Regions from separate parts of the Homo sapiens genome. Here regions 1 and 3 are each linked to region 2. Evidence: fine-mapped expression QTL. A gene starts in region 2. Each other region holds a variant in brackets. All regions are shown on one strand. Distances are between the middles of the regions.

Region 1 (5,230 bases), 70 kb after region 2:
CCCTAGATGAAGTAGGTCAAACCCGGGCCTGCATCTCCGTAAGGAGGCAATAATGCCTGGTAGCATTACCAGAGGGTAAGACGGAGAAGTACTTTGGAGAAATTAGAAACTTCCCTAGTACTTGTTATGAAAGCTCAAACTCTTTAAAATAATGGAAATGTCATAAATCAGGCAGATTCACTTTTGCCTGAGGATGGCTTGAAGGAGGCTGCTGTGAGCTCTTTAGTGATTTGTCTGACACAGGCTACAGGCAAATTTAAAGGTGACCAACTTAGCAAGAAACAAGGCAATTGAAAGATCGGTTTCCTACCTTGACCAGCTAATGCCTGCAAGAGCAGACCGAATGGCTGAATTCCAACCCGATTCCAGGAATACTGTTTGCTGACCTGCTGTCTTAAGTCAGTGCTGTGATTCCTGCAAAAGACGGCAGAGTCAGGGTGGGGAAATGAGCAGGTGCTGCTGTTGGCGGTGGGTCTAAACACCCCACCACACATTTGTTTGCATCACTTGTCCAGGACTATGATTCTGGCACTATTTTCCTGGATGTTATACAATGTCAAAGGGGAAGGTGGATGGTTCCCACCAAGACAGAAGCACCTTCTTATTTCAGATGCTATCTTCTTGGTCTGCTGTGCTGTGTAACAAAAATGTATCAACCCCAAGCAGAGTTAAGGCCAGAGCTGGGATGCTGTGGTAGGCTGAAAAACACCCTGGAAAAGATATCCATGTCCTAATCCCTGGAACCATTGAATGTTTCCTTATATGGAAAAAATGTGGGGAGCCTTTGCTAATGTGATTAAATTAAGGATCCTGAGATCGTGACGGGGCGGTTATTCTGGATTCCCCAGGTGGGCTCTAAATGCAATCACTGGCATCTTTGTAAAAGGAAGGCAGAGGGAGATTATTTCACATCCATAGAGGAGGAGGTTGTATTAGTTCGTTCTCACACTGCTATAAAGACACTACCCAAGACTGGGTAATTTACAAACAAAGGAGATTTAGTTGACTCACAGTTCCACATGGCTGGGGAAGCCTCATGAAACATACAATCATGGCAGAAGGGGAAGCAGGCATGTCTTACATGGCAGCAGGCGAGAGAGAGAGAGAGAGAGAAAGAGAGAGAGAGGAAAAACTGCCTTATAAAACCATCAGAGCTTGTGAGAACTCACTCACTATCATGAAAACAGCATGAGGGACACCGCCCCCATGATCCAATCACCTTCCACCTCATCCCTCCCTTGACAGGTGGGGATTATGGGGATTACAATTTGAGATGAGATTTGGGTGGGGACACGGACCCAAACCATATCAGAGGTCATATGACGACGGAGCAGAGAAACAACTGAAGATGCTGGCCTTGAAAACTAAAGTGGCATGGCCACAAGCCAAGGAATGCCAGCAGTCAGCAGAAAGCAGAAGAGGCAAGACACAGAGTCTACCCTATAGCCTCCTGAGAAAGCTCAGTGTTGCTGACACCTTGAGTTTGACCCAGTGATGCTGATGTCTGACTTCTGGCTTCCAGAACTGTGAGAGAATAAATTTCTGTCATTTTAAGCCACCCAGTTTGTGGTAGTTTGTTACAGCAGCCCTAGCAGCTGATACAGGTACACAGGGACAGAAGCTGGCATGCCCCAATGGGGCCCAGCAGGCACAAGCAACAGTGGGTTGTTCCTTCCCAGGACCGAGGAGCTGTTCACTTTGGGGGCCACTGTGTGTCTCCCTGAGAACTCACAGTTCTCAAGACAAACCCCAATGCCCAGTGGGTAGCCACTTGTCCCCTTGCTCTAAACCTTCAGAGATATTCTCAGAGCACTAACAAACTGAGACTTGCTTTATAGGGAGCCAACTACAGCGGTGTTTAAAAGGAGAGAAGTGATCTAAATCATCACACGTGGATGAAGAGCACCATTTAGAAGTCGAATCTAGGCCGAGCACAGTGGCTTGCACCTGTCATCCCAGAGCTTTGGGAGGCTGAGATGGAAGAATTGTTTGAGGCCAGGTGTTCAAGATCAGCCTAGGCAACACAGGAAGATGCTTTCTCTACAAAAAAAAAATTTTAAATTAGGCAGGTATGGTGTCTTGCACCTGTAGTCCCAGCTACTTGGGAGGTTAGGTGGGAGGATCACTGTACCCCAGAAGTTCGAGGCTGCAGTGAGCTATAATTGTGCCACTGCACTGCAGCCTGGGTGACAGAGCAAGATCCTGTCTCAAAAAAGAAAAAAAATGTAGAATCTGGATCATCCTTGCCATCCAGGTAGTTCTATTACCCCATTTTACAGATTAGGAAACTGGGGCCCAGAAGAGTTGACTAGTCATGAACCAACCTAAACCAGCGCATCTAAAACGTATTCTCTAAGACTAGGTCATAATGAAAGCCCCAAATGCACCTTCTGTCTTCTATTCCAAGGCCAATGCTAATCAAATCAGCAAAAAACAAAAACAAAAAAAAATGTACATAAACCATTGCTAGTGGTG[C/A]CAGGCAAATTAATTCAGCAATTAATCATGTTCTGCCTTGTCTATGTTCTATGTTGCTATAGTTTTGACCTGTCATTTATTTTATTGCTATTGAATCTTTGGTTGATTGAGTGATTGCTCTGAGAGCATACATTCTTTCAGGCAAGAATGTGGCTGTTACCTGGGTTTCACCCTTCACCGTGGCTAGCACAGCTCTGTGCTCATAGCTAGTGTTCAATCAACATTTATTTTATTTCTAGTTCTATAAGAGTGTACAGGTTATTTTGTGGGCCTTGGTATAATTCCATTTTCTTACAGGTGAGACCACAAAAGCCTATCAGAGGCCACCTATTCCAGGGACAACTGCACAGCCGGTCACTCTGATGCAGCTTCTGGCTGTCACTGTAGCTGTGGCCACCCCCACCACCTTGCCAAGGCCATCCCCTTCTGCTGCTTCTACCACCAGCATCCCCAGACCACAATCAGTGGGCCACAGGAGCCAGGAGATGGGTCAGTAGGTAGACCATGTGTTGCTTTGTGCTAGGGAAATGGGAAATTGGGCTTTTAGAGTAACAGCTCTGTCTGAGCATCTACTGGGCTGGGTGAATGGGGAGCACTGGAGAACTGGGCCGGGGGTATGTTATTTGTGTCCTCCTCCTAGATTCAAGGGAGGATGTAGATTCAAAAATAAGACTGCTGTCACCGTACTTCTGAAGATAGAATACTTTCCCATTGCAAAATCTTCATTTCTCCAAAAGCTCAGTTGAAGGGATGGTAGATTTCTATGTAAACATTGTTGGGGTTTATTGTTGTTGTTATTGGTTTTTAAGTGACAAATGGTACAGACTTGGAAGTCTTCAAATATTAAAAGCAAACAAAACCAAAAGAATCCCTTTAGGAAAAGTCAGCTAATGTTTTTGTTCCTTTTCTGATGGTTTTTTGTCTTACTACTTTTACCCATTGCTCAAATCATGTTGAAGGTTTTATCAAGGTCCAGTTTATGGACTTCATCTCGTACTACATCAAATAGGGCCTAAGGAGCCCATCTGATCATCTGATCTCATTTCTGCACAGACTTATATCTACACCATCCTAAGTTAATAAGCATCTATCTCACTTCCAGAACTTTTCTAGCAAGGGGGCGAAAACTTCTGCAGCTGGAGTTCCACTATTGTCTTAGCAATGTTTTCTGAATATTTCCCACCTGGTGCCACTTTTTCCTTCCAGGAGGAAGTGCTCTGGACTTGTTCTTTTCAGGCTCGCCTCCAGCTTGCAGTCACTACTGCCACATAGCATGACCCTTCCCCCTCTCCGCTCCCATAGCAGAGGCCAGCTACCTACCTATCCATCTTCTTATTTAAAAAATGCAAATCAGGCTGGGAGCGGTGGCTCACGCCTGTAATCCCAGCACTTTGGGAGGCCGAGGCAAGCAGATCACTTGAGGCCTGGAGTTCAAGACCAGCCTGGCCAGCATGGTGAAACCCCATCTGTACTAAAAATGCAAATATTAGCCAGGTGTGGTGGCACGTGCCTATAGTCCCAGCTACTTGGGAGGCTGAAGCTGGAGAGTCGCTTGAACCTGGGAGGCAGAGGTTCCAGTGAGCCGAGATCGCACCACTGCACTCCACCCTGGGTGACAGAAAGAGACTCCGTTTCAATAAATAAATAAATAAAAATGCAAATCAGCACTTTGAATATGCTAGCCCATCTTCTGAACACCTTACAAATATTAGCCTATTGAATCCTCCGTAACAACCCTATGAAGTAGATTTATGACTTCCAATTTCAATAATCCATTGTATTGATGAGGAAACCAAGGAGTAAGGCAGTGAGGAAACTGGTTCCAGCCTACACAGCTGGGAAGTGGCAGAACTGGAATTCAAACTCCAGCAGCCTGGCTCTCCTCTTCCTTGCAGGGGAGCATCCCTGCCAAAAATGAACACCCCAGGCCCAGGCAGAGCACATTTTGGCATGATTAGTATGGCAAAATTAAAAGGTGCTCAGCACAGCCAACTTCTTCTTGAATTAATAATAACAGAATGCATGTAGTACATATATCTCATTTACCAGGTATACTGCATGTATTATCTTATTTAATCTTCCCAATAACTTTTTGAAATAAGAATTATTATTATGCTATTTTATGGACGACTCTTTGAAGAAGCTATGATATAAAGTCCCAGAATAAGAATACCGCAAAAAGAATTTTTGGTGTTCTGAAATACATCAAACACTCCTCCACCATTCTGTTCCTGTTTAACTCAGGATAATATTAACACAGGTGCACAATACTTGACAGCAAAAGAGAAACAGGAAGGATGCTGGATGGCAAGGGTTAACAGGGGTTCTGTAGCCAGAAGTTCTCCTTTCTAAAATTTCAGGCTCTTGACTTCAGATGCCTTGATTCTTTCAAAGATTTTTGAGTATCTGAGTTAGTTGTTTGCTCCTGTTTTCTCCTTAGAGGACTTTAAATTCTTACATAACACATATAATTAAACATGTGGCATATTTATTTGGCTACGCTGGGAGCTTGGAAATCTGTTGCAAGTTGGGCTCTGCTGGTGGAAAACCTAAGAAACTTGAAGTAGTGGCTCCTAACCTGGCAAAGCTTCTTTATTCCTGGCTTGGGAACAGGAGCTTTGGACAACAGCCTCCTGGCCCATCAGTGTTCCTTCTTCATCCTTGTCCAGAGCCCACTTCTATGGTGATCCACAGACTGCTAGACAAACGCTCGGAGCAAGCAAGCCATGAAGCATGCACCACAATGGCTAGGATA
Region 2 (5,230 bases):
GCTGTCCTTAGTAAAAGTAAGTATTTGATAAACAGCAACTAGCATTATTATTATTATTATTATTATTTTTTGAGACCAAGTCTTGCTCTGTCAACCAGGCTGGAGTGCAGTGGTGCGATCTCGGCTCACTGCAACCTCCACCTCCCAGGTTCAAGTGATTCTCCTGCCTCAGCCTCCCGAGTAGCTGGGATTACAGGCACCCGCCATCACACGCCTGGCTAATTTTTGTATTTTTGGTAGAGATGGGGTTTCACCATGTTGGCCAGGCTGGTCTTGAACTCCTGACCTTAGGTGATCTGCCTGCCTCGGCCTCCCAAAGTGCTGGGATTACAGGCTTGAGCCACCGAGTCCAGCAGCATTAGTAGTAGTAGTATTAGGAATAATGTGATTATGAATTATGCTTAGGCTGCCATTCTGAACCTGCCCTAATTCAAGTGGTAGGACAGGGGATCCTCAGTGTTACAGCATTATCATCCTTACCACCAAAGAACCTGGGCTCAGAATTTAGTGGAGGAATAAAGAGGATTGAGAAATAATTTCATTGCAGAACCAAAAGAAGTAAGGGTAAAAATGATTAAATAACATTCAAATCATTATCTCCCTTTTTTTAGTCTTCATGTTCCTTTAATGGAGGAAGATTCCTGATCAGTGTACAGTGATGTATTTATTTAACAGTGACCTGTGCAGAAATTACATACTATCCATCTAGATAGCTTGCTACACTTCGCCTATTGATGGAATCATTCCATTTATCAAGTTTTATACATCAAAAAGCTTTGAATTTCATCAGGCTCTTCATTAATTCACCTCTGAAAAAGTGGCATTTAATTTCAGCTACCATGTTTTATAGCATTAAAAAGCTTATGCATCTCTGCACAATGGCATTGAGCAGATGAATCCCACCCAGATTCACATAGTCACATTTGAGAGCTTTAGACCAGAGAGCTGGGCCAAAGTTACTCCTAATCAACACAGACTTCTTACCGTGAGAGCCTATCTTCTCGGCCACATTTTATATAGCCAATGAAGACGTGCCAGCAATCATCCCATGTATAACTTGGCATTAGAGCACAAGATCTGTCAAACAATTATCTTAAATAAGGAGCAGTTCCAGGGCCAACAGATGAGGACAGGAGGCTTCTCGAATGGAAGAAGGTTCTCCTCCCTAGCTGCGTGAGTGCACACTCCCCAGCAGGAGGAGGAATGACTCTTTGCTACCTTCTCCTGTGCTTGAAAACAGATGCTCTGCCACACTGATGGACACTGGAATCTCAAGATCTGCCAGATGTACTTTTTTTTGGTCTGATTTTTTTTTAATGATGTGATACGTTAATACACATTTTGAATCTGAATCTCTTAGATTTCATTGATGACACTAATATATAAATAACTAAAACTGGCAGATTTCATGTGAGATTATTCATCAGTATTTTTTTTGAAACATGAGTCAGGTTTTGCTTCCCACTATGATTATCTTGTGTCCTGTAACTACCAGCATATAATTGAGTCATTTCATAAAACTTGCCAAAACGCAGAAAGGACTGAAGCAAAACAAAACAAAAAAATAGCATTAATATGTAGGAAAAAGTACATATTTTCAATTCAAAAGTGGGAGTCCAGTAGAATAAGTTTGAGAGTGTTTGCACAGTTTTCCTTCTTTGTGCAGTTCAGTCCAGCTGTTCACTAGCTTTTGAAAAAGAAAGAAAAAATTGAATTGCCCCTGCTGAAGTAATTTTTAAAACATATCTTTTACTTTCCATTTTTATCTAAGTGGTCCTCCTCTACTTTTTAGAATGTCAAATTGTAGAATTTGCTTACTGAAAGTTTGTGCTTTGGGCTACAAAAGAATATTTAGAAATCCTTACAAAAAAAAAAAAAAAAAAAAGCAGTGGGAGTGGAAATTTGAAAGAGGACCGCCTAATTCAGCACTAAAACCAGTGTGAGAAGCAGTATGTGTGAGCATGTGTGTGTGTGTATGTGTGTGGGGGGGGGTGTAAAATGTGTTTTTCAAAGTACTGAGAGGTTGATGGGACTGTTCGATTAGCTCCTCTGAGAAGAAGAGAAAAGGTTCTTGGACCTCTCCCTGTTTCTTCCTTAGAATAATTTGGATGGGATTTGTGATGCAGGAAAGCCTAAGGGAAAAAGAATATTCATTCTGTGTGGTGAAAATTTTTTGAAAAAAAAATTGCCTTCTTCAAACAAGGTATGTCTGATGAATTTCTAAGCTGTGTATATAGTTACTTTCCATTCATTATCATTGAAACGTATTTGTCTTTAAGAAACTACAATACAAAGCTTGACCGAGTAAGCAAATTTCAGTTTCAAGAGAGTTGAGATGAAAGTGGATGGTACTTGGCATCCTTGTAAACAACTAGTAATATACATATATATTTATCAATTATAAATAAACTGCATTGATATTAATATTATAACAAGATTTTTACTGTTCCTTTAAACCAATTTAATTATGGTTACAAATAAGTTGAAAAGTATGACATTTGTGTAGAATTTTAAAGTAATTTAAGTCTCTATTATCTTGCTTTTTTAAAAACTTTGCTTGGAATATGTGGAATGTAATAGCAATATAGCAAATTGCTTATAAAGATTGTGAATGGCAGTATGAGAAATGGGCACATTGGTGCTAACTTAAAAGAGAAACTATTTCGTGTGGATCTCTACTTCTCTCTATTCAGACAGATTTCAGTGGAATGTGGCTAGATGTGCGATTCTGTGTCTTGTTTACACTTAAAGTGTTTTCTTAGGCTGAATGCTTCTGTTACTGATAAGCCCAACAAGGGGCTGGCATTGTTAAGTCTGCCATCGTAGCTCAGCTTTTCACAGGAAGACAGGATATGAAATCTCTTTTAAGTATGATTTGTGTCCAACTAGTATAAACATGAAATAAACGCCTCAAGCACAGGTTAAAGAGAGAGGATAAGACTGAATAATTAGACATGACAGTTTTCTCCAAACAACCCACAGCATCTTTGCCATTCCTAAATCAAGAGTGGAATTAAAAATTTTCTTTGGACTTATTGTAAAAATAAAAACAAGCATTCTTGGCCGTGGTGGTTGCTCAAAATTGCGTGTGCTAAGAAAATAGTATTTTGCCGTTACGTTGTGTTGCAATAAATTTGGAAGTTTTGGTGGTAAAGTTCTGAGGTTGTTTTTCCCTTGGTCTCTTGAAAGATGAAAACACCCTGCAGCAAAGCAGGATCAAACACTGTTTGTTTGTGTATTTTCTCTCTATGTGTGTTAGCTGCAAGTGGTAGCTAGTGCTGGTAGGAGAGCTGGAAGTGCCCATCTTTTATTTATTGAATTAAAATACCCTCTTTTGTACAAAAAGCTTTAGACAAAGAATTACAAGATTGCAAAGACTTGCATTTTTTTATTGCAATATGCTGGTTTCCCAGACTAAGCTTCATTTAAATATATCTTATGCCTCACCACTAAAAAAAATAAAAATACCTTAGGAAGATTGGAAATGCTTAATATCTATCCTAAAACTGTTTAATTCATGAATATTGTTAAGAAGATCTGTCTTTTCCACCAAGTTACTGATCACATGAAGAATAGTTTCTTTCAGAGAAAATACATGAGGTTTGAGAATGGTTCTCAGCTATGATTCCTATAAGACACATTGAATACAGGAAAGCAGTATGGTTCAATGCATGCGCCAAGCCAGGAGTCCTAAATTATAGTAACAGCTCTGCCACTACCTATTACCTTGGAAAACATATATAACATTTCTTGACTTTTGTTTCTCTCTTTGGAAAACAGAAATAGCAATGCCTGTACACCCTCCCTCCCAGGGCGGCCACAAGGGTCAATAGTGGTTCTCAGCTCCAAAGGAGTTTTGAAATGTCAAAACTTCTATAGCAATGTAATCTTGGCCTGGCGCAGTGGCTCACACCTGTAATCCCAGCACTTTGGGAGGCCGAGGTGGGTGGATCACCTGAGGTCAGGAGTTCGAGACCAGCCTGGCCAACATGGTGAAACCCCATCTCTACCAAAAATACAAAAATTAGCCAGGCATGATGGCGGGTGCCTGTAATCCCAGCTACTCGGGAGGCTGAGGCAGGAGAATCACTTGAACCTGGGAGGCAGAGGTTGCAGTGAGCTGAGATCACGCCACTACACTCCAGCCTGGGCAACAAAGTGAGACCTGGTCTCAAAAAAAAGAAAAGAAAAGAAAAGAAAAGAAATGTAATCTTTTATTCCCCACATATTAAAAAAAAAAAGATTACTTTAGAAAGCATTTATATAATAAAAACTTCATGGCCCCCAACATGTTCCCATGATGCTGTGTCCACATGTGCAACTTCCCCTCTCCTTGCTAACACTTGGAGGTGTGAGCCAAGCATCAGCAGCAGTGGGGACAAGACAGAACACAATGGGCCTGTCTGTCAGTAGAAGGGCATTTAGCCATGGTGCACTGGAGAGGTTACTCAATGTCTCCATCTCTATTTCATCACATACGAAATGAAGAAGTTACACAAGATAGTCTCTAAGCTTCCCTCTCAATCCTATGGTTCTATGCACTGGGACCTCTCCAGTGTCAAAATGTGGCCAGGAAAATTTCACTGTTGAGACTCTCTGTACATTGCTAAATGAAGAAGTATCGAAATAGTGCTATGAAAATTATGGTATATTTTAAATATGCATGTTTACCTAACCAGAGACTTACATGTATACAAAAATGAAATTTGACATAATTATATTCTTCACAAGACAATTAGAGGGGGTTATATATATATATACACACACATATATATAGATGTCTCCATATTCTTCAGAAGATGATTAGAGGAGATTATAGATATAGATATAGATATAGATATAGATAGATATATAGGTAGATAGATAGATAGATAGATAGATAGATAGATAGATAGATATGCACACACATATACATAGTGTACTGGAGACTGTGGGTCCAAGTTGTATGAAAGACTTTTTTCAGCTTTCTGCTGTATTTCTGTGACTGTCAATATAACCCCATTCGGAAAGAATGTCAAATGCCTTAATTTAAAGCCTTACATGCGAGGTCAAGGCAAAAATGGACCTTCCTGTGCTATGGGTCATGTGGGTGTTAGGCGGAAAGCTGTTACTTTTTCAATGTGTTAACTTTGGCAAGTTACTTAAAGTCTCTTGGCCTCAGTTTTCTCATCTATAAAATGGGTCTATTACTACTGCCTACCCCACAGAGCTGTGGCAAAGAGGTTTGATC
Region 3 (5,230 bases), 60 kb after region 2:
AATCCCAGAAATTTAAAGAAACAATTTTCCATCTTTGGGGGATGCTTTTTTAATGAGTTTAACTTAGCTGCACAGCTTTCCTCCCTGACCCAAAAAAAAAGGAGTGTTTACTTTTCATCATTTTATATCACCCTTTGGAATAACTAAATTCATTCTGTGCCATCACAAAACCAAATTGGAAACTGTCAAGAAAGAGGCTTTACTTAAAAGAGCTAGTGGGAATGAGAAAACCAAGGAAAAGAAATCTGAGGCATGGTGGCAAAAAGAAATCCCTGACAGAACAATCAGCTCCTATAAGAAGAAAGAGAAGGACATTGACCCTGGGAGCTCAGATGCTGGGTCTGCTGGTGGAGGCACCATTCTTGTGGGTTGGGCTTCATGTCAAGGTAAACTTTGCTTAACCTTGCTGCTTTCCTATGTGTAAATAAAGATGGCGACTGGTTTTCTAGCCTGTTGATCACGTCAAAAAATATTTCTGTTCTTTCCTGAAAAATTATTTTTTCTCTTCATAGTGGTGTGCTTGATAATTCAGGAGGGAAAATACTTGTTCGGAAGGTTGCTGGACAGTCTGGTTACAAAGGGAGTTATTCCAACGGTGTCCAATCGTTATCCCTACCACGATGGAGAGAATCCTTTATCGTCTTAGGTATGACCACACACTGGAGAAACGCTGCTAAACCTACCACAAGATGAAATGTGCTCTTTTCATTGTGCTGTTGGTTTTTGTTTATGGCCCACCTCATTTCATAAAAATCTGAAGCATTCGTTTTTCTGATAATTAGAATCACGACACAATAAATTAGAATTACATGATAAATCACCACAAAGTCATATCTGAAAATACTAAAAGGCTCCACATGCTTGTTTTAATTACACTGCAGTTATCTGTAAGTCCAATCAGATTTTTAATTACATTAATTACATTTAATAGCTTGGGTTTTTAAACCAGTCCTTTAGTTATGCCAAATGTGCCTCATGTCTAGAACCTTATTCCTTGAGATTTCTGTTAAGTGGATAGATAGGTATTGTCACAGCAAATCCATTGTGTCATACACAATGGCCATATCAAGAGGCATATAATGGCAGTCTGTTCCATTGTTGGTGATGCTAAGTTTGATTCACTGGATATTTTACCATATCTGTCCATGGCAAAGATACCCCGTAATTAATAAGCATCTGTAGGGTAATGCTTTAACATGCTCGAGTAGCTTGTTCCCCAACAAATTTCACCCAGTGATTTTAACATCCATTGCCGATCCTCACTGTAACAAGTATTACATTAGTAATTGCAAAATTATAATTTTTTCTAATTCTGTCATTCCTTCCACATTTGTTAGCTAGTGTTCTTATATAAAGAAGAGTTGCTTTCCCCCTCTGCACCTATTATTTTTAAGTGGACTATGGATTCATAGATTGTTTTTAAAAATATAATGTTATCATCTATTATCTTTATTTTTCTTTTTGGTGCTCATATTTTCTGAGATTGCCCAGTGGGAGCCCTTCAAGCTTTTGACATGTTCACGGTAGTGCTTGAGGACAACACAGTATTTTTTTTTTTTTTTTTTTGAGACGGAGTTTCAATCTTGTTGCCCAGGTTGGAGCGTAATGACACGATCTCGGCTCACCGCAACCTCTGCCTCCTGGGTTCAAGCGATTTTCCTGCCTCAGCCTCCCGAGTAGCTGGGATTACAGGCATGTGCCACCATGCCCGGCTAATTTTTGTATTTTTAGTGCAGACGGGGTTTCTCCGTGTTTGTCAGGCTGGTCTCGAGCTCCTGACCTCAGGTGATCCGCCCACCTCGGCCTCCCAAAGTGCTGGGATTACAAGCATGAGCCACCACGCCCAGCCTAACAGTGTTCTATACTCACCTTATACGTACCCTACTCTAAACCTGAATCTCCCATTTTCTCTAAGGCGGTTCCATGGGATTTTAAACTAGATTGTAGCCAACTTCCTGGCCTCCCAACAAAATTAGGTGCCTTGGGACTGTCCTGAGAAGGAGTCACTTATAGAAAACTAGCTGAACAGGGAAGAGAGAAATGTTTCATAAAACAGTAGGTCTTCCAATCTGGGTGGTTTTCTAGCACTGCTAGGCACCCCATGCCTCAAGCCCCTACCGTCCTCCACTGATTAGAGTCGTTAGCAGGACAACAAACAGACCTT[T/C]TACTATTCTTCTCAACTTGAGCAATCCATGTTTCCTTTTGCCTGCCAAATTCTACACGCCCACAGTTCAAATTAGACTGGTTTCTTTGTCAGATAGCGGAAGGGTATCAACCGCAGTACTGTGGGGTTTTTGCCTTGTAACAAAAAATTCACAACGGGAGCCATATAAAAATGCTAATGTCTCGAATACAAATATGTTGAGACAGAGAGAAATATAATCTCCGCATAGGTGTTCACCAAGTAGATCCTGGCTGAATAAGAGCATTTCAGCCTTAAGTGCTCAGTCTGCAATCCAAGAATCTCAACAGAGGTTTAAAAGAAAAATTAATTCTATGGCAGTAGAGATGTTTTGGGCTTTTTAAGTGAAAATCAATCTGCTGATATTATTCCCTATAAATCTCGACTTCCATCTCCCCTCATTCGACCTAGTGACAGTTAACCGAAAATACTTTTTGCCAATGATAATAAACATTTGTGCTTCTGCAATGGCTTGGAAGCCTCTCTCGAATGGATGAGTTAGGAGCTCACTGCAGCATAAGCATTGATAACTGACTGGCAGCCAAGGAATGCTTCCCATTATCCAGAGGTTCATGGCCAGCAAGTTTAACTGCATGATGTCCGAATCCTCTTCTGAAGGCTCAGGTGCCACCATGATCTTTCTCTAGGTTTTTATTTCTAATTTTCATATGCCCCTGAGCTCCTTAACTAATTCACTTTGGTGAGCTAAGAGGGGGAGCAAAAGAGGAGATGTACGTTTACGGCCCGCATGATCTTTACACAGTCCAGGGATATGAAATGTCAGTGAGGGACCCCCTAATACTTCCCTTTTATCCTTTGATCCACATTTCAGGGAACTGAGCTCATGCTCCTTTTCCTTCTGAATAGAAACAGAAAAAAAAATCACGTTTTAGATCAATAAATAGAGAAGATGTCTCTTCCTCGCTTTCTGCAGATAAAGTGTGGCCCACAGCCATGGGGCCCTCTCTGGGCCTAAAATAACCTCAGTCATTGTCATTTGGAGCAGGCCTTGACATTGGTGGAGGACTTGGAAATGCCAGTCCTGTTCCCCAGGTGATTCTAATGAGGTAAAGTAATGCAAGTAAGCCCAAACACGTGGCATTTATAGGTAACACCAGAAGAAATTTTTGCATCTCTATGGAGATACATAGTTCCAAAACATTTTAACATTTTTTCCATTAGATGTCTACAATCTTGTGTAGTAAGCAGGGCCGTGTCATTATTCCTGTTTTGTGAATGAAAACACAAGAGCCTCAAAGGTTGGGGCAGTTAATTAAAGGTAAAACAGAAACAGAAACCTAGATTGTCTTACTCCTAATCCTAGGTTCTTACCTAGACCCTGCTATTCTTTCTGCTTCATGACCCTACGATTCCTGTGCCAGCAGGATGGTTGGCAAGATAGTGCCCTAGATCCTCCTCCACCCACCTAGGTTCTCTGTGCCACACTGCTTACCATCTTCGCATCCTGTAAAAGTATTCCCTCCAGATGGGAGAAGAAATGCTTTCATTACTAGATGTAATATTGGCTAACAGGTAGTACCCCTACCAAGGTATTTTAATTTTAACAGAGATCTAAGCTTTAAGATATTCCCCCACTGAATAAATACTTCTTGAGCAACTGCTTCACGCCAGGAACAAATTGCTTTGAGCTCTGAAAATTCAACCGTTACCAAGTCAGAAAAATGACTTGCCTTCAGGGGGCTTACTGTATTCCAGTGGCATTCTCACTTTACTTGTGGAACAAAGACCATATGGTGGAATTTCAGGCGTCCTTTTATGGTCAGAAGAAGACTTTGGCAATTTTTTTATGCTTATTTTTTTCCCTAATAGACGTTACCATTCCTCTTCCTTGCCTGCTAGCTACCGTGTCTCCCCCTGGGTGAGCAACACATGGTTATTTTCAAGGTTGACCTATATTTACCTACTTTTAGGTTTTACTACTGCTATGAAATTCAAATGAATCCCACACGGTCTGTGAAAGTGAGCCTATGACCGGAGCACTCCATCATCTCAAAGGAGAGCATGTGGAGGGCTTTCCCGTTCACCTACTGATACAATTAAACATTCGAAGCCACACAGATAAAAACCTTCACTTCCATGTCACATCTTCACGGGTGAAAGAAGGATTGCTGATGTTAAGCAACTCTGAATCATGGAGAGTTGGTTGCTTCCATTCTAATAGTAATAAAACACAAGCTATACAGGAAAACAAAATGCCACATGACATTCTCATTGTAATCAACTATTCAGCATGAGGGAGACTGATTTTATTGAACTGAAGAGAGATAAATTGAAAGGACAGAATCAACTTAGTACAGAACCATCTAAAACCTCTAGCTCTAGAAATAAATCTCGTTTTTTTTTTCTCTTTTTTGCAGAAAGTAAACCCAAAAAGGGTGTAACCTACCCATCAGCTCTTACATACTCATCATCGAAAAGTCCAGCTGCCCAAGCAGGCAAGTGCTCACGTGTGATTGAATCTAAACCTTCTGAGTCCATGAACACGCGACGTGTTTTGGGAGATAGCGGAGAAATTAACATCTTAACCGGTCAAGCTCCACTGGCTCTGGCAATATTTTAACAGATGCCAGGAACATGGGCACAGAAATCAATGAGATCAGATGGCTGGGGCTGAAGAATGAAAGCTTTATTTTTTGTTTTTGCAATTCCGAGATTGTGTCTCTATATTTGTGTCATTTTCATTCAGATTGACTGTTGCCTTGAGTTTTAATGTATTGTTGCTTTAGAAAATGACATGACATTCTGTCCGGAAATGTTTCCTGGCAGCTAAAAGGAAAAAGCTGTATCTACTTAGATATGAAATGAAGAGAAGCAAAGAGAACGAGGTGGTTTATGTGATAACAGCAAGCTGCTCATCCAAATAACCCAGGCCAAAAATACACTGTCTACAAGGTTGTGCCAACTCAGCTTTCATGTGAACCACAAAAGGGAGTATCGGTAGACCTCAGGCCAAGAAAATACCTTTTTCCAGGTTTCTGTGTTAAATCAAGAACTGTACTATGCATTATTGTATCTCCAGAGGTGTTT

Which allele goes with the higher level. Positions count from the first base shown, and alleles are read on the strand shown. Sizes are in standard deviations (SD) of each study's normalised expression. Not every link is listed here.
As copies of A replace C in region 1, the expression in tibial nerve of the gene that starts at base 1,937 in region 2 goes down (small effect, 0.29 SD a copy in GTEx).

Evidence for each region. PIP is the estimated chance that this variant, and not a neighbour inherited with it, causes the effect.
Region 1: its variant is the best candidate, but not a certain one, in a credible set for the expression of VIT in tibial nerve (GTEx, PIP 0.86).
Region 3: its variant is the best candidate, but not a certain one, in a credible set for the expression of VIT in tibial nerve (GTEx, PIP 0.74).

What each region holds. Positions count from the first base shown.
Region 1 is chr2:36,764,322-36,769,551 of GRCh38, forward strand. VIT (vitrin) reads left to right here. Exons shown (of 16, transcript NM_053276.4): 7 at 2,773-2,964. It overlaps LOC124905990 (a long non-coding RNA gene), which reads right to left. Exons shown (of 3, transcript XR_007086283.1): 2 at 311-414. Among named protein-coding and RNA genes, the nearest start is that of VIT, 70 kb to the left of the region's middle. The variant C/A (reference allele first, on the strand shown) is at 2,476.
Region 2 is chr2:36,694,771-36,700,000 of GRCh38, forward strand. It overlaps VIT (vitrin), which reads left to right and starts at 1,937. Exons shown (of 16, transcript NM_053276.4): 1 at 1,937-2,203. The region is part of intron 2 of LOC124905990 (a long non-coding RNA gene); the gene reads right to left.
Region 3 is chr2:36,754,409-36,759,638 of GRCh38, forward strand. It overlaps VIT (vitrin), which reads left to right. Exons shown (of 16, transcript NM_053276.4): 5 at 513-646; 6 at 4,561-4,638. The region is part of intron 2 of LOC124905990 (a long non-coding RNA gene); the gene reads right to left. Among named protein-coding and RNA genes, the nearest start is that of VIT, 60 kb to the left of the region's middle. RefSeq lists an enhancer at 1-118. The variant T/C (reference allele first, on the strand shown) is at 2,165.